3 linked regions of the Homo sapiens genome follow. The protein of the gene in region 3 interacts with the protein of the main gene of each other region in a biochemical or structural test. Each region holds a gene or a part of one and is shown on either strand. Other genes may lie near its edges. The genes, in order: HHIP, PTCH1 and SHH.

The links.
Region 1: the proteins of SHH (region 3) and HHIP form a complex in vitro, tested with the Homo sapiens proteins (one study listed by IntAct).
Region 2: the proteins of SHH (region 3) and PTCH1 are reported together in a solved structure, tested with the Homo sapiens proteins (5 studies listed by BioGRID and IntAct, with this or other methods).

The regions. Positions count from the first base shown.
Region 1 is NC_000004.12:144,641,113-144,649,201, reverse strand, and holds the start of HHIP (hedgehog-interacting protein precursor), read right to left. Parts: upstream 3,047-8,089; 5' UTR 2,527-3,046; coding exon 2,248-2,526; intron 1-2,247. UniProt on the Homo sapiens protein: Modulates hedgehog signaling in several cell types including brain and lung through direct interaction with members of the hedgehog family.
Region 2 is NC_000009.12:95,464,267-95,471,367, reverse strand, and holds part of PTCH1 (protein patched homolog 1), read left to right. Parts: intron 1-1,348; exon of another isoform or gene 1,349-1,436; coding exon 1,437-1,555; exon of another isoform or gene 1,556-2,214; coding exon 2,215-2,617; exon of another isoform or gene 2,618-2,709; intron 2,710-3,921; exon of another isoform or gene 3,922-3,942; coding exon 3,943-4,252; exon of another isoform or gene 4,253-4,439; intron 4,440-7,101.
Region 3 is NC_000007.14:155,809,421-155,817,287, forward strand, and holds the start of SHH (sonic hedgehog protein isoform 1 preproprotein), read right to left. Parts: upstream 3,044-7,867; 5' UTR 2,703-3,043; coding exon 2,403-2,702; intron 1-2,402.

The sequences.
Region 1 (8,089 bases), on a different chromosome or scaffold from region 3:
AATCATCTCTCCTGTATACACATTATGAAATAAGATCCTAACATATATTATAATCCAGGAAGGCTTACGGGAAAAAGGGAAACACTGAAGTTTATTATAAAATAACATGTTTTAAAAACTATTAAAACTTGAAAACTAACATAGGTCAAGAATGCATATGCATAGCTATAGCAAATCTCTGTTTTGAACAATTTGGGTATTGTTGATTTATAAACCTCTTGTAATAGAACCAGCAAAAGTCTAGTGTACCAAACTTAATTCAGACACACTTTCCAAATGAGTAGGGGTTTGTTGGAGATTGGAAGCACATAAAACAGAAAGGAATGTATATAGTTAACATGGCAGATTGCTTCCTAAAGAATGATTTCTTTAAAAAAATTTTTATATAACTTCTCTTAAGGGCTATAACTCCCCTTGGTCCCATCCCCCTTCCCCTTCTCCTCACCATTTAGTCAAGAACAAAATTTTCATTCCACATGTCTCTGGAAGAGTTGAGTATTGCAGGGGTCTCTAGATCATCAGTATATTCATAGTACGTATTGCACCAAGGGAGACTTAATGGCAAATATTTCTAAACTTTTCTCTGAATTTCCTGGTTCTTTAGGGCTCCTGATAAAACCTTTAAGGTGACCTGAATATAGCTATTTTGAAACTTAATTCAGTTGCAACACAGGAGCTTAAAGACATTGCTTTGAATAAAATCCTGGAATATCTGTTCCCTGAATCTCAGGCTCCTGCTGCATATGGTAAGAATAAAAAGAGAGTTGCAGCTGAAAACCTGCAGCAAGACAGTTCTCACTCATCTGGGAATAGAAGGAGTTGGACAAATGCTCCCTCAAAAGGCATGAACATTTGGACAGAGCTGGGGACTGAAAGAGAATGATGTTCTCTAGTTTCACCCATTAGTGAACCAACTAACAAATACAATGGTGTTGTTGTTATTCTTTTGCCATAAGCAACAGGACTCTGTGTGTGGGCAGCAGTTTAGTGGGGAGGAGGATAAGTCGACCCCTTTTTGTCCTATTGATTTTTTCCTATTTGCATGACTTGAGCAAATTAAATGATGCAATATGGCTTTTTGTTACAAAACAAAGTGAGAGATACCACCCAGACACATATGTTGATTCGTAGGAGCTGTTTACATGAGAATAGAGTGAAATCTACCGTGAACTGAGCATAAAAATTAGATTCAGCCTGGGTATTTTTTTTTTTTATTATGCCTGGGCCAGCAAGACTGAAGCACAAGTTTTCCAAGAGTCTCTCAGACCTTGACAACTGGCAGTGTTCTAACAGAGGAATTCTTAATTAAACCTAAAATGGGGAAAGGGAGGGGGAGCAAAGACACCTGATTGTTTATTTCACGTGCAGTGATTGTTAATGATGTGAGCCAGCAATGATTCCTTGGAGTACAGTAGATACCACCCATGACTGCATCTCCTGGCAAGAACGATATTGCAAACTCAAAAACAAGCGTGCCTTTACAGTCAACAAACACCATGTTAGTATTTAAACTTATTAACACAAGGATAACGTAAATGCCATTACTCTTAAAACAAATTCTTAGAGTAGATCTTCCAAGACACCAACTGACCCTGAAAGTCTGAATTTATAATGTTACAAAATGACGGAGAATCGTCTCAGTTTTATGTGATAAATAACGCCCCAGCAAAATCTTTCGCCAGTTTTTTTCAGGTCCCTAACCGGAGGACCAGGAGTTCCTTTCTGTTGGTTTAACTAATGTAATGCAAGACACCCCCCTCTGACGGGGCTGGGGATCATAAACCAACCATGCTTCAACATCCTTTACGATTCAATCCTCTCCCTAACCGAGCACGTGGAGAAAACAGCACAAATCTTTTTACCCTAGAAAAATAAGCCGGAAACCACAGCCACCTTAATTTACAGTTTCACCGCAGCCAATGCCCCATTCGATCCAAAACACACTGTTCATCGCGATTCTTTTAAAATATTTACCCAGCCCAGGGTGCGGGTACCGCAGAAACGTCTGTTTTCAGAGATAGGCAAGTTTGCACAGCATCCCGACCGCGGACTCTGGGGGAGGAAATGCTACTTGCTTACCCCAGAGGAACACACAACGGAATCACGTTAGCGCTATAGAAAAGTTATGGAAAGAACTCCCCCAAAGAAGTTTTGACCTTCTTACAACCACCGGCTTTGCCAGAGCCACAGGGAACCCCACCCAGCCAATATGCCAAGTACGCATCCGTGAAGCCGGTGAGTGCCTACCTTATTCTCCAGGCGCCCTAGCCCCGGGCTGTCACTCCGCAGGCAGCAGGACAGCCGAGGGTAGAAGCCACCGCACAGCATCTCTCCCCCACTCAGCAGCTCCAGCTGGGACATCATCCTCCTGTCTCTCCTTTTCAGGCGCTTCGGGGGGTTCCCATTCAGGCACCTTCTCCTCCTTGCTCCGCTCCCTTCGTTTCTTTCCCCAAACTTAGCATCTCCTTCAAAGAAGCCCAGAGCCACGGCCAGCAGCAGCAGCTTAAAGGAGAGCATCTTCAGCATCGTCTGCCCAGAGCAGCAGGGGCTGGGCGCGGGAGGATGGGGGGGAACGCCACTGCCCAGCAGGGGCACTAGGGCGCAGCTCCAGGAGGAGTTTGCGGGGCTGTAGGGCACTCCAGAGACAGAGGGAGGTGGCGGGGACAAAAATATGTACAGCGATGCAACTTTGCAAAAAATAAAAGACGCGGCGATGGGTCCAATGCCTTAGGGGAGCCCGAGGAGCGAGATAAAGTTGTGCGGATGACACCGTTTGCAGTTGTGCCAGTGTCAGTTGGGTTGGGGGCTTTCTGCTGCGGCTGGGAAGTGGGAGGAGGAGAAGGAGTTGGAAGAGGAGGAAGAAAAGGAGAGGACAGCCACAGATGTTCACTTGTCCGTGTAACGGGAGTTGTTTAGGTGGGACAGTAGCAGGAACAGAAACGGCGACGGCGGCGGCGGGGCAGGCGGAGGCAGGGCCAGCGCTGGGCTCTAGATGATGCTGAGGTCTCCTCTGCCGGCGGCTGCAGCTTCTCACACAGCCTCTCATGTTTCGTTCCCTCTTTTCTTCTTCTTTTTAACTAGCGCGCGGGGAGGTGCTGCCACAGCGCGCCCCTTGACGTCACCGCTTCTCGCGCGCCCCCGCCCAGGGTGGAGGGAAGGGGAGGGGGCGGCCCCCGCGCGAGCGCGTCCCCCGGGCCCCGGCGGCCTCCCTGCTGCGGCGGGGAGGGGCGGCTAGCCGCGACGGCGGCGGACGGAGGGGGAGGGCCGCGAGCCTTCGGAACCAGCCTCGAGGGTGCTGAACCCCGCGCGCCCGCCTCGCCGCGGCCCCCGGGTGGGGGCGTCCACGGCCCGGGTTCCCGGCGGGCTTGGGGCAGGGACGCAGTCCGGAGATTCCGGGACTGCCCGGCTGCTGCAGCCCGCAGGCTCCTCTCTCCTCCCCGCTTCCCCTCCGCACTGCCTGGGCTAAAGGCGGCCAAGCTGAGGCTCCGAAAGAAAGTAAGTAAGAGTGGGCCGTAGGAGGTGGGAAGGGAGGGACCCCTTCCAGGGCCATCCCCACCTCAGCCCCCCGGCCCGCCCCTCGCCCCGTGGGAGGGTGAACTAAGTGGGCTGGAGCGGACGGGAGGGAGCTTTTGGGCCCCTTTGTCTCCCCCAGCCGCACTGACACCCCCATTTTCCACACTGATTTTCAACGTGAAGCTCAAGTCCTCAAAGATCTTTCTTGGGGTCTGACTTAGAGGCAGGGGGACATCCCAGATGCCGTTGAGTAGGCTGAGATGGTTTGGAGACTCATCCTCGCCGGAGGTCCTGCAAGCCACTGAAGTGGCACAGACGCGTGTGCGCGGAGTGGGGCGGTGTGTCGGGCCACAGGCCAAGCCCAAGTCGGCCTCCCAGAGTGTTTGCCACGGTTTGGGCGGGTTAGTCCCCGACGCCCCTTTCAGGTCCCCACATGTGTTCGGGAATAAGCCGGGCCCCGCTGGTACCATCTGGGAACACAAGTTCTTGGGCCGCAGGTGGACGGAGAGAGAAGCTGGGCGCGGAATTAGTGTTCGTTTTAACACACACAAACACACACACACACACACACACACACACACCTGCACGCACGCGCGCGCAGTCCCTGGGGAGAGGTTCCCCTGGGTGTAGAAACAGAGGCGTTAGATCTGGAGAAAGAATTAGATGCAAGTCTGAGGGCATCCAGAAGCGCTGTGCTCTACTTATCCCCGTGTATACAAGTAAATTAACCTTTTCCCCAGCTAGACAAAGTCTGTGTAAATAGTGTGTCTAAAAAGATGTCTACGTTATCAGGAGCGGTGACTTGAGGTTTACTGGATCCCTGCAAGTTGGCATCAGGACGAGCTTCTATAGGGTTGCCCACAAAATGCGCTTCTAGCCCACTTGGGTATTTAACAGAGAAGCTGATTTCCCAGAAGATGGGCTTTGATGAGGAGATAAGGCAGTTGTCCCATTTTGGCAATGGAGGAATGTTCACCACATTTGGGTTTGCTTCACTTGTTGGACATTGATTTCGCCAAGTGATTGCAAAAGTTGGTGATGGTTGAGGTGGGCAGTTGATTAAATTAATCACTTCTGGTCACAGTGGCTAGGTAAGGCTTCTGTCTTTTTCACTTCCTGAGCCTGGATATTAGTGAAGTTAGGTTTTTCCCCAAAGAGATGACACATCAGAATAACTGAAAAGAATCTGCTAGGATGTTTGGCCCAGTCCTCAGCTAAATGTAGAGCCCCCATGACATATTTAACATTTTCCCCAGGGGCTGTTGTATACACATGACTTCTTCATGCATGTGATTGTAAGTCCACTTTGGATCTCACATACTTTTTTTTATCTGACATTCTTTCTGCTTTGAGGACTTTTAATATAAAATTAATCAGAAAGCAGTAAGCACTTTAAGACTTTAAACTCATTAATAGATCTCCAGATGAATCTCATCAAATTTAAATCACTTGCACAATTTCATCTCATTAGGTAGTTTGAGAATAAGGACTCGGATCCAATCTGGGGTGCTTTCCACTATCTAACCCTTTCTTCCCAAATTCCAGTTTTATATTCTTTTTCCAAAATAAAAGTCCTTCTAAAATCGTATTTCAGTAGTTTGAGCTCCTACTCTGATAAATTCCTGTTAGTAGTTTTGAAACAGGCCTTTCTTATGGCTTATACTAAGGCCACTTAAAGGTAAATTTATTTTGGTTTTAAAATACTATGCATCTGTTATAACCTACGACCCTAAGATATAGAAAGTTTATAAAAGATTACTGAAATAAGACATGCTTGTTATTTCTTGATATATGGAAATTAGAATTGATTTCATATACTGTTTGTCCTGAAAGTCAATAAATTGGGTCACTTAGGAGATAGCTTGAGCTTATTCTTAGTGTTACTGATATAATTTCTAAACAGTTACTAAGCAGTGTTATACAAATGGACTAACTTCTGATTTGTTTTTTCCAGAGGGAAAATTGCAACCCTTGCCTACAACCAGACTGACAGCATAATTTCTTAGGAATCAAGAATCAATACAGGGTTATTTCTTTAGATTAAACCTTAAAAGCCCCCTTGGAGGCTGAAGAAGCAGAGGATAGCCATGCATACACTTGAACGTGAAAAATGGTCCTCTTTCATTGGAGAGGTCTTCCTCTTCAGCTAAACCGACAGAGTGGTGAAAAGAAGAAGGGACCCCTTGTTGACCAAAATAATCCAGACAAATCAAATCGGCCCTTTCCAGCAAGGAGTGGAACAGCCCAAGGGTGGCTAGATCACATCTTCTGCTCACACCACCACTGAGCAACCCTCTCCAGGACTGCCACCTATGCATAGGTCATGCCCTGTGCAAGAGCACATAAAGTGGGAGCTGAAGTCCTGCCCAGGCTCCATTCACCAAGCAGAGCTTATGTTGTTGTGTGTCTGTGTCTACCCAGAGGATGTGGGTCCTTTTTAAAATGTGCACCAATGCATCTTGTATGAGCTGGCACCAGCTCGGACCATCCCACCCTCATACCCTGGTCCTATCCAGGGTTATATTCCCTACTTTAGAAGAATTAATTATTTTTATGAACGTATTTAGTTTATTGTAAAAAATGAAATATATGACACAAATTGAAATTAATTTCAGAGGTAAAGGTCAGAATATTACCATGTATGTGAATTATGTTTGTATGTATATGTATATATCAAGAGAGTTATATGAATATACATTTTTGTGTATCAGAAGTGAGGACAATTTAACTTTGTTAAGTGTTTGAAATAAAATTATTTTGAGTTTTGGAATCAGTTTTATGTATGGATTTCTGGCCTTCACAGAAATATGTACTATTTAATTCCATTTCAACAAATATATATTAAGTGTCAGGCACCGTGCTAAACAGTATGTATATAGTACTGAAAAATAATGCAAACACCCTGCTTCTAGGTAGTTAATAATCTAGTATAGAAGACAAATGATAAGGTCACAAATAAAATTACAGTTATAAATTGTGGTAAAAGGTATGAAAGAAATGCTAAGGTACAGAATAACAAAGCACACCTATTTCAGATTAAGTGACTGGAAAAAACTTCTCTGGGAAAATGACATTTCAGTTGAGACTTAGGATGACTTGGAAGGAGTACGAAGTGACTCCAACCACTGTTTAAAGTATAGGATCTTTTGAGTTCAGAATATAATTTGATACATTTGAGGAGAAGTGCAGAATAGATAACTCAGAATGGAAAGGCTAGAGGCCAAATTCGTAGATTTTTAGTTTATACACTCCAGGTAACTAATTAAGTTAGTGCCATGTATTTGTCATTTCCTTTTGTTTTTGCAAGTGCTCTTTCTTTCCTACCTTATACTTATCCATCTTTGTCTCTTTCTTTAAATTCTGGCTTAACAGCAACCTCTTCTAAGAATTATTCTAGTTTGAATGGCCTTTCAAGCATTGCACTTCATCTAAAAAGCATATAGATACATTTTATTTATTTTCTTTTGTGCATCATTGGTAAATACCTGAGATGTTTTTATATGTGCAAGTTGAATATTCATGAGATTATAATCTCCAGAAGGGCAGGAATTGCATTTCCTTCTTTGGAGACGCCAACATAGTTTAGTTTAGACTCATAGTAGAGCAACCGGCCTCTCAATAAATGCTGCTGAGTGGCTGATCTTGATTGAGTTGATAATTTTTAAAGGTTTAAAATGGAGCTCATATTTGCATTATAAAAACTTTAAATTGGGCCAGGCACAGTGGCTTGCCCCTGTAATCCCAGCAACTGGGGAGTCCAAGGTAGGAGGATTGATTGAGCCCCAGAGTTCGAGACCAACCTGGGCAACATAGTGAGACTCCATCTCTAAAAAAATTAGAAAAATTATCCGGGCATGGTGGAGCACACCTGTAGTCCCAACCACTTGGGAAGCTGAGGTGGGGGGATCACTTGAGCCCAGGAGATCAAGGCTGCATGCAGTGAGCTATGATTGCACTGCACTCCAGCCTGGGTGACAGAACAAGACCCTGTCTCAAAAAGTAAATTTTGAAATAGAAGAAAGCACACAATTTAAAGTGCACCATCACTAAGGAAGTGCAGCTGACCTTTCTACTAAAGTGTGATTCCACAGAGGAAGGACGGCCAGCAAAGCGAGGCAATAAATACACAGCCTTTAAAAATTAAAGATTGGTTATAATTCAGGTAAATGGACACAATGGTAGGGCTGCTTCTAGGATTTTTTCTACAGTTAGTCTTTCTTTCAAAAGTCAGCACCTACTGTGTGCCAGAGCCTGCTCTGGACCCTAGGAACACAGCAGTGAACAAAACTTTTTTCATGGAACTCATATTGTAATGGGGAAGACGGGTAACGATATAGAGTATACCAGATGGGGAGGAATGCTGCAGAGAAAAGGGAGCATGGGGAAAGATTGCAGGGGTTGGGAGAAATAATAATTTTGTATACATTGTCAGGAAAAGTGTTTACTGGGGCAATATTTGGGCAGATACAAGAAACAAGGGCAGAGAAATAGCCAGGGTCCACATTGCATGGGATCTTATAAGGTATGTTATGGATTTAGACTCTTAATTCGGAATGAGATGGTTTTCAATCAGGGG
Region 2 (7,101 bases), on a different chromosome or scaffold from region 3:
GAAAGAGGTTAGGTAGTTTTTAGAAGAACGCTCTTGAGAGGGAATTAATTATTGGAAGACATCTCTCCGGAACTCAGGCTTGCTGGTTCACCTTCAGCATAAACTCACAATTCCCATCCAAAGCCCTTTGTGGAAGTTCTCCCTGGATTGTGTTAGGTGGCAGTTATAGCCAGGTTTTCTTTCCTCACCCTAGGACGTTTATCAGTTTGAGATTTGTGAACTAAGCAGTTCTTTGAGAAGCCTCGTTTTTTATTTTCTTTCTTTCTTTCTTTCTTTTTTTTTTTTGAGACAGACTCTCACTCTGTCACCCAGGCTGGAGTGCAGTGGTGCAATCTTGGCTCACTGCAACCTCCATCTCCCAGGTTCAAGCAATTCTCCTGCCTCAGCCTCCCAAGTAGCTGGGACTACAGGCATGTGCCACCACACTCAACTAATTTTTTGTGTGTTTTTAGTAGAGACGGGGTTTCACCGTGTTAGCCAGGATAGTCTTGATCAGGAGATCCCTGACCCCGTGATCCACCCACCTCAGCCTCGCAAAGTGCTGGGATTATAGGCGTGAGCCACCGCGCCTGGCCTCGTTTTTTATTTTCAAAGCCATGTCTGGCAATTTCCTGGCTCCTCAGCATTGCCAGTGCTTTTCTCTGTGGTGCCCCTTCTGCCGTGCCCTTCCGAGCTGGGTCGACTTCCACCGGCTTCTGTTGGCTTCCCCTATTAACAGCCCAATTTTGTAATTTTTACTAGGTCAGCAGAAGATTTGCCAACGCACTGCAGAATTTAGCCCTGTGTTTATTCTAGGTTATGGAGTGACTTTTGAATCTGTACTTATTTATTCTGCGTACTATAATCACACACAGGAATTTCTTTCTGCTTAACTCTCCTTGACCTTTTATGTTTCTTGCTCTCACACCCCACAGGCTACTCCAGAGGCAATTTGGAATGTGCCTATTAAAACCTCAGGGGACACGTGTGAAATTGTATTTCACGTTTTAAAGGGGGACATTTTGATATACTCGATCCACTTTATATAAAAATGTTTAACTGTAAAATCAGGGTCGCGTGACCTCTTGGAAGCATTCTGGAAGGGAACTGCTTCTGTTTGTTTTAAATTCTATCTCGAGTGTGCTCTCTGTTCTGCCTTTGTGGATTTGGTTTGGTTAGGTTACTAGCAACACGTTAGTAGTTTAGTTCCCAGGTTTGTGCCTTATCGGTTTATGGAATTATTAGAGATAGAAAGGCCCAGAAACAGTCAAGACTATTCCTATCAAATAGGCTCTTGATGATGTAGCAAAAGAAACTCTTAACATCTGTCACGGTTTCAAATGCTTCAAGAGGAAAGGGAAAGAAAAATATTGTTTAAAAGCATCTTTATTTTCGAAGCAGTCCTCTGATTGGGCGGAGGCATGTTGGTGACCTCTGAATTTTTTTTCTGCTCCCAGGCAGCGGTAGTAGTGGTGTTCAATTTTGCCATGGTTCTGCTCATTTTTCCTGCAATTCTCAGCATGGATTTATATCGACGCGAGGACAGGAGACTGGATATTTTCTGCTGTTTTACAAGGTACATTTTCAGACTGCTGTGGCCTTTTGATTGGGTGCAGAATGGTGCTGTGAGAGAACTCTTTCAGCCTGTGGACTTATAAAGGAATGTGGGTAACGGGGTTTGTGCTGGTGTGGAGAACGTAGGGGAGAGATTGGACAGAGGCTGCTTCCCTAGGGGGACATCAGAGTCCCTGGGCTTCCTTCTCCCCTGCCGCAGCTGAACAGTCTCACAGCCCTCAAGATGCTGGTTCCGATGACCCCTTTTTCCATCATGAACTGATGTTGCCGATTGTAGGAATGTTTCATATCTCTGCATTAGAGCAGAACAAGATTGAAAAACACCCATCTAGAAAATATATAGTCCTTTGATGGTGGTTTGGTTTTGTTTGGAATTGTGCTTTGAAGGATTCATCATCATGGAACTTGCTTTTGAAAGCCAAATTTAGGATCAGTCCTCCATGTGGCCTCCTCAGACTGACTTTTATCTAGTTCACCAGGCGATGAACCAGGTGATGTTATCAACCAGGCGATGTTTCTGGAATTCAGCAATGTGATGTTTCTCTCCTAAGTCAGAGCTGTGTAAAATGGGTATTCTCCGTACACAGTGAAAAATGGCAGAATGAAAGCACCATTTCCCTGTTTCAGCATAACATTGCAACATGTTTCCCCTCCTTTCAGCCCCTGCGTCAGCAGAGTGATTCAGGTTGAACCTCAGGCCTACACCGACACACACGACAATACCCGCTACAGCCCCCCACCTCCCTACAGCAGCCACAGCTTTGCCCATGAAACGCAGATTACCATGCAGTCCACTGTCCAGCTCCGCACGGAGTACGACCCCCACACGCACGTGTACTACACCACCGCTGAGCCGCGCTCCGAGATCTCTGTGCAGCCCGTCACCGTGACACAGGACACCCTCAGCTGCCAGAGCCCAGAGAGCACCAGCTCCACAAGGGACCTGCTCTCCCAGTTCTCCGACTCCAGCCTCCACTGCCTCGAGCCCCCCTGTACGAAGTGGACACTCTCATCTTTTGCTGAGAAGCACTATGCTCCTTTCCTCTTGAAACCAAAAGCCAAGGTAATCTGCCACAACTTAAGGCTCTTCCTGTCTTCAAAAAAATAACAGAACCTTTGGAGTTCATCAGATTGCTTCTACTTTTCTTCTTTTTCCTTAAAAAAAAAAAAATTTCGTTTAAGTATGATACATTTCAGTCCTCCAAAAGTCAATGCTTTTAGAGCATAGGGCCATTTTAATGAGGTCATCTTCCATGGGAGTGAACCTCTATGCAGCAAGTCTTTTTATGAATGAGGTTGTTTAAAAATGTGATTATTGCCACTTGCGGTGGCTCATGCCTGTTAACCCAGCGCTTTGGGAGGCTGAGGTAGGAGGATTGTTTGAGCCAGGAGTTCGAGAACAGCCTAGGCAACAAAGGCCAACCCTGTCTCTACAAAATATTTTAAAAATTAGCCAGGGACAGGTGTGGTGGCTCACGCCTGTAATCCCAGCACTCTGGGAGGCCAAGGCCAGCGGATTGCTTGAACCCAGGAGTTCGAGAACAGCCCAGGCAACATGATGAAACTCCATCTCTACAAAAAATTGCCTGGGCATGGTGATGTGCCTATAGTCCCAGCTGCTTAGGAGGCTGAGGTGGGAGGGTCACTGAGCCCAGGGAGTCGAGGCTACAGTGAGCCGTGATGGTGCCACTTCATTCAAGCCTGGGTGACAGAGTAAGACCCTGTCTCAAAAGAGAGGGGGAAAAAAGGCATGGTGCTGTGTACCTGTAGTCCTAGCTACTTGGGCAGCTGAGACAGGAGGATCATTTGAGCCCAGGAGTTGGAGGCAACAGTGAGCCCTGATCATGCCACTGCACTCCATCCTGGGAGACAGAGTGAGATCCCAACTCAGATACATAACAAAACAAGGCTGGGCATGGTGGCTCACGCCTGTAATCCCAGCACTTGGGGAGGCCGAGGTGGGTGGATCACCTGAGGTCAGGAGTTCAAGACCAGCCTGGCCAACATGGTGAAACCCTGTCTCTACTAAAAATACAAAAAAAAATAGCCAGGCGTGGTGGTGCACACCTGTAATCCCAGCTACTTGGGAGGCTGAGGCACGAGAATTGCTTGAACCTGGGAGGTGGAGGTTACAGTGAGCCGAGATGGCACCACTGCACTCCAGCCTTGGCAACACAAGACTGTCTCAAAAAATTATATATAAAACAAAACAAAATAAAAATGCGATTACTATGATTTTATCCTTTTTCCTATGGGAGAACAACCCCTACAAGATAAATCAGTTTAAGTGTGGTGGTGAAAACAAGGTATTAACTAGACAGCTTCTCTTTGTCCAGGAAGAGTCAGTGGTGCTCCCTGGGGTCTGACCTTGTGCCTCTTCTGTTCCAGGTAGTGGTGATCTTCCTTTTTCTGGGCTTGCTGGGGGTCAGCCTTTATGGCACCACCCGAGTGAGAGACGGGCTGGACCTTACGGACATTGTACCTCGGGAAACCAGAGAATATGACTTTATTGCTGCACAATTCAAATACTTTTCTTTCTACAACATGTATATAGTCACCCAGAAAGCAGACTACCCGAATATCCAGCACTTACTTTACGACCTACACAGGAGTTTCAGTAACGTGAAGTATGTCATGTTGGAAGAAAACAAACAGCTTCCCAAAATGTGGCTGCACTACTTCAGAGACTGGCTTCAGGGTAAGACGGCGTGGGAGGCTCTCGTCCTTTCGGTCTTTTGCGTGTTCAGCTTCAACAGGTTCCTTTGTCATGATTATGAGAGCGTTAGATTAGAATGTAACACTGACGTGTTTCATGGACTTTTAAGAGTTGCTCAAGATTCTTACATGAACTGTTTCTGCAGCAGCCTCCCAGATCTGGCTTTTACCTATAAAATGATGCAGATAATTCAGATGAGCTTCTGTGAGAATGTACAAGTGCACGTCAGGAAAAGGGGAGCATGTTGTAACAGGTGGAGCCGAGGCTTCTGGTGCTCTTTCCTCTTGGATAGACGGTGGCTAGTTTGGTGACCACATAAAATCAAAGTGCGGCTGGGATTTCCAGACTGATTGCCAAATTATAGCTTACTGCACCAGGAGATGCTAGATAAGCAGTGGACATAGTCTTACACTCCATATTTTGACCATCTCTTTAAAAATTATCTATTTCTAATTGACTTTGTTTTTAGAGCAGTTTTAGGTTCCCAGGAAAATTGAGCAGAAGGTGCTGAGATGGCCCATATCCCCCTTCCTCACCCACACACAGCCCCCTCGACTGTAAACATCCCGCACCAGAGGGATGCATTTGTTACAGCTGATGAACCTGCACATTATTACCCAGGCTCCATAGTTTACGGTTGGGTTCATTTTGACCATTTTTTGATTTGGTACTTGAAGTAAAGTTATAAATGCTTAGTAACATTTCACATTATTTTATAAATAATTAAATTCTGTTTTAAAATGCCTTTCTTGGTGGGGCACAGTGGCTCACGCCTGTAATCCCAGCACTTTGGGATGCCAAGGCGGGCAGATCACCTGAGGTCAGGAGTTCGAGACCAGCCTGGCCTACTAGTGAAACCAGCTCTCTACTAAAAATACAAAAATTAGCTGGGCGTGCTGGTGGGTGCCTGTAATTCCAGCTACTCAGGAAACTGAGGCAGGAGAATCGCTTGAACCTGGGAGGTGGAGGTTGCGGTGAGCCTAGATTGTGCCATTGCATTCCAGCCTGGGCGACAAGAGCGAGACTCCATCTCCAAAAATAATAAATAAATAACAGTGCCTTTATTGGCTTCTTCACTCTTAGAAATGTTTCTAGGAAATATTCATCAGCTGGAGGGGAAAAAAAAGTCTAAATTTTCTCCTGACCGACTGCACGTAAATGTATGCAGTGATTCCAGGAACATCTGTTCATTTATTCTGCATTGACACATGCAAAGCCAAGTAGAGAATCAGGATAATTATCCACCCAATTCAAGCAAAACACTTTTACTGGAGTACCAAATCATTATGGCCCCCAACATTTTTTGGCTTGGATTATCCAAATGATTGTCTTAATTTCCCACTTAATTAGGCTTGTTTAAACACAGATGTAAGTGCCTTTTTTGGTCTGAAGTCAATACACTTGTATGTAAAGACTCAGCAGCCAGTTTCCCTGAGAGTTTGCAGGAAATGGTCAACAACTTGAGGTTGGTAGAGGATGGTTCCATACAGCTTCTGGCCTTGACTTGTGTTTACCAGAACTTTGTGTCTACATGTACACCCAATTTGACTTTCCTTTTGGAGGAAGGTACAGAGAACATGCCATGATTATTATTTATTAACACCCTCCTGAGACGAACGTGAATTTGTTCCAAGTTTTATTTTTCACATTTAGTTTAGAAAGCAATGGTTTTTGGGATAATGAGTTAAAAGAGAGACAGTGGAGAGAGTCCCTGCTTTCATTTTCCCCCCATTGACCAAAGACATATAAATAACTTGCCACAAATGACAAAGAGATCTGCTGTGCCCTGCCAGTCTGTGAGCAGAGAAGGGTTATTGTAGAGTGTATTTCAGTGTCTTTGGCCATTGCTCTGGAGGCTCAATGTGGCATGTTAGGCAGGGATTGGGAAGGGGGTAAAGGGGGATTGTCTCGAGGCAGTGCAAAGGGTTAACCTTTTTATAGAGCATTGTAGATCATCTCTATACGTTTCTTCCTTTATAGATGTAAATCAGCTGGAGTTGAGTTTTTTTTTTTAAGGTGCATTTGAATCATGTTTTGATTGCTGTGTGAACAGCATACACCTAGACCAAGTGAGATCCATTGGTGCTAAGCAATCAGGGTCCCAGGCAGCCCTGGGACTCCATGACTGACTCTTACAGGGTCCGCTAGAGCACTCAACACAGAATGACCAGACACTGGAGCCCTTTGCTGCCTACACGTTTTTCAGGCCTGTTGAATGGTTGATGTGGTGTTTGAACATTTTCTACAAGGAAACAATTATCCTTGAGTCAGCTTTCCTTGCTGACATTTTTGTGTGGCTTTTAAATGGTGGGAGCCTCATTGGTTTTTAATGGAATTCCCATTAAAACTATGTCATCTCATTGGTCTTTATCGACATTACAATAGTTTGTCTTTGATTTTTTTTACTCCTAAAACTATATAATGGTTAATTTCAAAACTATCCCACATGTCACATCTTAAAACATACATGCAAATAAGGCAGAGTCAGATAAAAACCATGCCTCGAGTCATGTACAAATGTGTTCATTTTTATTTCACACTGGATTATGCAAACAAAATTTTGATTAACATTTTACTTCTAGGGTCCCATAGCTGAAGGAAAATGGGCAATTGGGGTTATTCCTTTGGCCTAGAACTTTACATTAGAAAATAATTATTGACACAAAATATTCATAAGAGGAGAACTTCTAGCTAAGATATTAAGGTTTGCTGTAAAATAAGTAAAAAGTCACAATTTTCTAGAGTGTGCATGCATTGGAATATGAAGCACTGGCTAAAGGGCAGTGGAAACCCAACCTTATCCCTTGTTTTGTATCCAGGGTCGTACCTTG
Region 3 (7,867 bases):
TGCACCCCGCCCCTGCCCTCAGCACCCGAGCCTCCGCCTTCCCCATCCCTTCCTCCCCCACCCTTAACTCCTGGAATCGGGAGAAGGAAGGTAGGGGAGGGATCAACCGGGGATACCTCACAGACTGCCAGCCCCTACCCCCCTCGGTTTTAGGGGACCTTTGTGGGGTCTGCCTGATAATCCCGGCCTGGCTCTCCTCACCCAACCCCCACTTGGGCCGTCCTTCCCCCTCCTTTTGTGTTGGGAACGGGAATAGCCACTGCCCAAGGAAAAAAGTATTTGTTTTCGTTTCGTTCGTCTGAGGGAAGTTGACAGAAGGTCAGAAGTTCAAATGCTGCCTGTGCGCGCGGCGGCGAGAGTGGCCGGGCGCGGGGCCGCTGGGCCCTGCGTCCCCCGGCAGGGCGGACGGGGGTCGGGGGGAGGCCCCCGGGCTGGGGGCTCCGGCTGGGACGCGGAGGCCTAGAGGCCAGGCAGGCGGCGGACTGGGGATGGGGGCGCGTCCCAGGGCAGGCCGGCGGAGCCCGCGATGCGCCCCGGCCCCTGCGCGGGCGCCCCCATCTCCGCGCCCCCGCCGCCGGGGACACTACAGCGAGCCCGGCGCTGCTGTTAGCTCCTGCGGTGCCTGCGCTCCCGCGCGTGGAGCAGCAGAGCCCGGCGGCTCCAGCCCAGCCCCTCGCGCACTGAAACCCTAGCCGCGGGGGATCGATAACCCGGGAGTAAGTGGGGCTGCAGGCGTCTGCCTCGCTGCGCGGCTCTGTGCGCTTGCAGCTTTGCAGCAGGGCTGCAAGGCCCAAGCCCTGGGAAGGTGTGCGAGCCCAGGACCCCTTCTGCGGTATTGGCCTCCCGCAGAGCAGGGCAGAAGCTGACCCACTCTGGCTCTGGGACCTCGGGTATCCACGCCCCCGCCGCTCTCTCCGCAGTGCCTCCCTCCTCTCGGGTTCCGAGGGACCCTGGCAAGGCCCCTCCTCCGCGGGGAGTGAGGGTGACGAGAGGATGGGCGCCTCGGGCTAGCCGGAGAACTCCCTCCAGCCAGCTGCACGCAACGGGCACCCCATGGCCCGTGCAGAGTTAATTGTGGATCGCGCTGCTGTCTGGCACTGGCGCGCGCGTCCACACTCGCGGTCCAGATTTAAGGTGGTCGGGAGCAGATGAGGGAGAGCAAGGAAATCAGGACCATTTCCCATTCCTCTCCCTTCCGACAGCTGGAGCAGGCTACCTTGCCTGCCCCTCGCCTTTCTCGGCCTCAAGCAAGCCTGGGAATCGGGTCGGGAAGCAGGGCGGCACGGAGGTAGCTCCTCTCTCTCTGCCGTCAGTACCCTCCCCCTGCACTTGCGCCCCACCAGCGCCACTCCATCAGCCGCTGTACGCACCTAGCCCTAAAGGTAGGACTTGAATATTTTAATAGGGCAATAAAAAGGATGTTGACCTATATTTGCAAGGAAACCCATTTCTGGCTTCAGTTATACGTGCATGGAGTTTCAGAAAGTCTAGAATTGGCTGGGAGATTGGCAGCTCAGAAATCTCAAAGGAGGTGGGGAGAGAGAGAGGAATTCATATTTTGCTTAGCTTCCCCTCCCCCCACACTAATATTTATTCGCTCTTAATTCTTATGCAAGCAGGTTGAAAACTAAAGTGATGCAATGCCAATAAGTTCTAAGTCCCTCCCCTAAGGTACCTCGGGCTTGGAAGAACGAAAGAGCATCCTTAAAGAAATATCAATACATTCACACTCTGATGGGCACAATTGCGGACACGCAATCGCAAAGCCAGCTCTGCGATACAGCCAGCCACCCAGGGACGGGCGGAGTCTCCCCTGGAGCCCCTGCCTTTTGTCAGAACCGCCTCCTGGCTTTTCCAGTTGAGAATTCTTTGGTGGGGAGGTGCAGGGTGGGGGTAGTGGTGGGAAAGAAAACCACAGAGGCAACGGGAAACGTGGGGGCTCTGAGCTCCAATGCCCAAGGCTACGTTCGTTCGTTCGTACAGTACCAGGAGACCACTTCATGTTTGTGGGAGGGGGATTCCCAGCCTCTCCTTCCATTTCCACTCCTGACTTGGAAAGGGCCGACGCCCCCAAAGTGAAGGTCTCCCCAAGTTACAAGCCAGGGCAGAGGTAGGATGGGGAAGGCCATTGTAGCAAGACTCATCAAATCAGGGCCATAATGAACCACGTCTGTTACCGTCCTCACCCCCACCACACCCTAAACTTCTCCAGCTGGACCCTTGACCTCCATTCTCCTCCAGGAAGAGGAAGAGATGGGGGGCGGGCAGGTGGGTGGGGAAGGAGCGGGTGAAATCACCTTCCTATCTGCCCGAAGAGCAAACAGAGTTAAGTCTGGAAGTGTTCGGCTTCTCGTAACCCCCTGGAAAGCCACACATTCCACGCCCCGGCGCTGGGTTCCTACCTGAGTCATCAGCCTGTCCGCTCCGGTGTTTTCTTCATCCTTAAATATGATGTCGGGGTTGTAATTGGGGGTGAGTTCCTTAAATCGCTCGGAGTTTCTGGAGATCTTCCCTTCATACCTTCCGCTGGCGCCTAGGGTCTTCTCGGCCACATTGGGGATAAACTGCTTGTAGGCTAAAGGGGTCAGCTTTTTGGGGTGCCTCCTCTTCCCGAACCCCCTGCCCGGTCCGCACGCCAGTCCCGAGCATACCAGCAGCGAGGAGACGAGGACTAGCAGCAGACATCTCGCCAGCAGCAGCATCTCGCCCATGGAACTGATGACTTCCGAGCTGTCCCCGTGCGGGTCCGTGCGCGAGTGCGCGCGGCGGGTGTGTGCGTGTGCGCTCTCTCTTGCGCTTTCCCTTCCTCGCTCCGGCTCGCCCGCTCGCTCTCTCCCTCGCTGGCTGCCTCGCTCTTTCTCTTCCTATATAACCTTGCCCGCCGCGGCTGCGGGGGACTCTCCACCGCTCCCCACCCAGACAGGGGCTGGAATGGCAGGCTGCCGGCCGCTGATAACGGAACACATCGGAGTTGGGTCGCGAGACAGCAATCAAAAGACAAAAAGAGTCTGATTTTAAATGGTAGCAAGCCTGGAGAGCTTGTGAGAGAGGCTGCCTTTAGCACTATATTATAGCTGCCAGGGGCGCATCTGATTGGCCAAAGCCGCACAAGCTTGTCTTCTGATGTTAACCCTGAAGAAGACTACGTTTTTTTTTTCTGTTGCTGCTGTTGCTTTATTTTCACCTGAAGGATTCGAGTTAAAAAAAAAAAAATCTTTCCTAAGATAAAGGTGGGCGGGAGGGAGGAGCGCATGTCTTGTGGTAACAGCAGTTACTCCCGGCTTTGTGTACATCCTTGCGTTTCCCCCTGACTTTCCCTGGAATGGTAGGTGCTTCAGTTAAAACCAACTTAAGTTTTTAAAGGACAGTTTAAACCCCCGCAAGCTTCAGTCATCAAGCACAGAGTCGCTCACACATTTGAGGGGCACAGCTGCCCAGCTGTTATTTAATTTTTCTTCCCCAGGGACTTTATAGTGCAGGCTGGCTCTCCCTGCATTTTGAAGAAAGAGGACTGAGCCCCTCCTGAAGACTCAGCCTCTGTGGACCGAGGATAATTATGAGTGACCATAACTTAAAGCACTGGTATTTGAAATGCTTTAAGTGCCTTAGAAAAATGTAAAAATACTGCTCTTTTATTGTGCTTCAATTAATACATTTTTTTTTTTGTAGAGCTCTGCAAATGGGATGGAGGCGTGCTCAAGGGCAGTTACAGAGTGAACTGCGGGCGTCAGGGTGGATGGGCAAAGCAGGTCTGGGGGCTGCACCCCAGCACAGGGGAGAGAGTGGGGGCCAGTGTGTGCGCTGGGTGTGTGGAGGCCATTGCAGGGTGTTGGGGGGGGGGCAGGCGAGTGGGCGAAGCTGTGCTCACACAACCCCCACGATCGATCAGAGCAAAGTGCAGAGCCAGGGGTGAGCTGAATGTGGAATTCAGGCTCCTTGCAAAGCTGGCCTTGTGTGGGGGCTCAGCAGGCCAGCAGTCTTCAGGCACAGGAGCCACCAGTCCTAGGGGCTGCAGCCCAAGGGGTCAGGGGCCCTGGGGGAACAGTGTTCTGGTTAACGAGGGGCTTCCTAGAAAGAGGGCACAGTGCCCAGGAGGTGGCAATCTTTGAGTCTATAATCACCTCACTTTTTGCAGAAAAAGGAAAAAAACTCAAAAGTCCTAAGTAAACCAGGAAAATAAAATTTGAAGCTCCCTCTCAACCCTGCTTTTCTTTTTTTTTTTAAAAAAAAAAAAACAGATCATGCCCTTCCCCTTCTCAATCGCCATCCCACTCATGTGCAATGATTCCTCTAGCATAGGATTAGAGAGTGAGGGTTATTTACGTGGAGGGGAAATCCTGACCCTGAGGAGTCATCAGATGCTGCAAATGTGGCCCTGTGAAGTTAAACACTCTCCCTTGACCCCGGGCCCTTGGAGTGGAGGGGGAGAGGACCCCTGTGAAGCTCAGCCCTCAAACGATGGAAGTTTCCAGAAGTTCCCTTTGCAGATCAACTTTTTGTGTGTGTGGTGGGGGAGAGAAGGAGAGGAGCATCTTAGGACACATCTGTCTTGGGCATGAGAGGCTGAGCGTTAACAAGACTCGGTGGCCTGGGTGCCTTTGGGGAGGTTGACCCGGGCTCCCCTTCCCGCCTCTCTTTCTTGTTCCTTTCCATGGTTTGTGACGAATCGTGATCCCTGGAGGAGAGCACCGTGGGGGAGCAGCGTCCACTTGACCAGGCCCCGGCAGCCTCCACTGAGCGGAGCTGGAGCTCAGCTGAGCCCAGGGATTCTCCAGGCGGTGTGTCTGCGCTGCCTGTCCCGTTCCCAGTAAAAACAGACACAAAACAGGACCCGTGTTCTCTCCAGAGGAGGCCGGCCTGTTTGATGTGTCTACCTGCACAGCATGTGGATGTCACATCACTGGGTGGTGCCTGGGCTGGACCAGCGACCTGGCCCAGTGGGACATTTGCAAACTTTTGACTGCCCTGCCTTCCACCCTTGGCATCTCCTCTTGCCCCAGTCCCTCCTCCTCCCCCTGTCTTTCCCCGCTACTTACTCCCTTCCAAATGCAGGCAGAAGGCCCCCCACACGGGTTGCCACCCTGGGGCCTGAGAGATTGGGTGTGCAGCCCTGCCGGGAGGTGGCATGTGCACACAGCTCACCTCTGCAAGGGGCAGGGTGGGTGGGGTGTGCTTTTGGAAGCAAAAGCCTGAGCTGCACAGAGTTCCTTGTGGGCACAGCTGGACGTGGGGTGCCCCCAGGTGCGGTCAGCTCCCTCTTAGCAGAGCGCAGGGAGAAGACGTGGCTTGGCATTGAGCTTGGGTGACTCAGGGCATTTCCTGAAACCTCCCTGCCCTAAGGGATGGCGTGAGGCCCCCTCCCTCCCCTCCATCTCCAGACAGCCCTAGACACCCTGGAGAGCACCTCAGGGGCCGCCCCCCTTGTAGACTGGCCGATCCTCCAGAGTGAAATAATGATGGGCCAGAAAGCCTGCCCCCACGCCTAAGTTCAGAGGGCCTGCCCCCTGCATGGGTTGAGGGGAGCTCGGCGCAGAAAGCAATCCCAGTTATAGACCAGGCTGCTGACTGAGCCCCCCAGAGAAGCTGCTGCTCTGCCCTCCCGCCCTTCACTCCCTGTCCTTCCATCCCACCTGCTCCCCACGGCCCAGCACTGCCTTCCCCTCCAGAGGCCAGGTGGCTCTATCTCTTTGCCTTCCCCCCCCCCCCCAGACCATTTGGCCCCCTCCCCGCACCAGCAGAGGCTCCAAACACCAGCCTCCCTGACAAGGCCAGACATCCGGACATGCTGGGGCTCCGTTATTCATCTACCTGGGCTCTGCCTCTCTTCCTTGGGGTCACGCGCATCCCTCCCTCGCTCCTTCCTCCAGCTTTCCCTCCCCCACCCTCCCCCACCTCCACCCCTTGCCCAGCATCCCTGCTGAGGACAGAAGCTGCCTCCTCTTCTGCCCCAGCCCCCAGGCTCCCTCCTGGGCACTGCCCCTGCCCCTCCTTCCGGCCCCTGCCGCTAGATGGCCTCCTCACTCTGCCTTCGGCTCGGGCTTGGCCGGTTTGGGAAATCCCCGCAGTCCCAGGTCGGGAGGCCCGGAAGCCAGGCAGCCTCCTTCGTTCATCCTCCCCTGGTCCCGTCAGCAGTTTCTGCGCCCCCCTCATCCCCTCTTTCCTTTCCCAGATTTGTACCCGCTGGGCTCTGCAGTTATGGAGCCCGCCTGCCTGGCATCTCCAGGTGCTGCCTCTGTTTCTAGTCTCTGGGGTTGGCCTCTAATCTTTCATGTCCTTCTCCCCTTTGATTTTTCTTCCTTATAGTAATTCCACGCAATCTCTTTCCATCCAGCCATCCAGTCTCCACTTCTTTCTGGATTTTCCCTGTTTTGGCCGGTGGAACTTCTGCACTCCAGTTCTCTTGTGATTGCATCCAGGGCCTTTTGAATTTGGGAGGGATTCTGCACCTTAGCCCCCTTTCCCTAACTCCATGGTCCTCCCCATCCCCGGGCCCTGGGGATGTGAGTCTCCAGCTTCCTGGAGGGCTCAGGCTCTGGATAGCCCAGGAAATCCAGCCACACTCTGCACAGCACCCTGATTGTGGCCTGGCTGCAGGTGGATTGAGGCAATGCTGTCCTCTCCGTGCCAAAGCCCAGGAGCTTTGGGGTGGCTGCAGGGCTCTCTGGACTCCTGCAGCCACATCCTCATGGCACCAGCGCTGAGGGCAGGCCCGCTGGGAGGCAGCTGCCAAGACACACAGGGCCTCGGGGGACCATGGCTGGCATGTGGAGCCAGCTACGCTGGGTGCCCACTGTGCAGCGTTTCTCAGTAGTGCTGTGCAGCGGGCACGGGGCCACCCCCAAGCTGCCACAGGCCCCATGACTGTGGGTGCAGCCTGGCTTCTTCCCGGCCTGGGCCACTCTGTGAAGCAGGGTGCAGGAGACACTTTGGTGACTGGGATTCCTGCCCTCATGCCTGTCCGCCTGCACACCAAGCCCCGTGGAGCCCCGTGGAGCCCCGTGGAGCCCCGTGGAGACCCGGCTCACATGCATGAAGGCTGCAGGCTCTGAGAGATGAGGACCCTGCAGTTTCTGGGGACGCTGGAAAGATCACACAGCCAGCTCTGTCGAAGTAGACATCCTAAGGCAGGCGATCAGCTCGGATGTGAACGTGCAGCCTGAACTATGTTGCTGTGTGCCTTTGAGCTGATTTTCTCTCTTTAGACCATTGCCTGCCTTTGTTGAGTCACTTCGTCTTCATTTTAAGTAATGGACACCTCTTCTTAGGTCTAAATAATGCCTCAGGTGTGTGCCTCTGTACAGTTTCAAAGTGCTCTAGCACCGTTGTCAGGGGAGCCTGAAGCTACATTTGGGAGTTGGAAAGGGAGGCACAGTGTGGGCAGGTGGCCTCGTGCCCAGGGAGGAAGGGACCCTGCGTCTGCATGCTGCTCCTTGCACCCCAGCTACCTAGAGATCCTTCCACAAGACCATCATTGCTTCCATCTTGGAGCCTAGTTAAGAGGCAGGTGCCCCAGACAGTTAATGCATTAAACCCTTGCGCACATGGGCCTCACCTGGGGGCTGAGAAAAAGCCGACAGGCCGCGCTGAGGCCTCACTCCCGAGCACTCAAATCAGAATTTCTCCTTTGCTGACTTCCCTGATGGGGATCCCAAAACCCAGGAGCGAACGTGGGAGGGGGAGATGTGGGTGCAACTGCCAGCTCCAAGCCCCCTGCTGCTCCCCCAGCCCGCGGACACTCCCCAGCCTCCGGATGCTCCGTCTGCTTGGCCCCCCAGCCCCTGGACGCTCCCCAGTCCTGCTTGATGCCTGTGTGCCTTGGGTCCCGTCTGCCCGGCTGGGCCTGGCATGGAGCTGCACGCAGAACTTC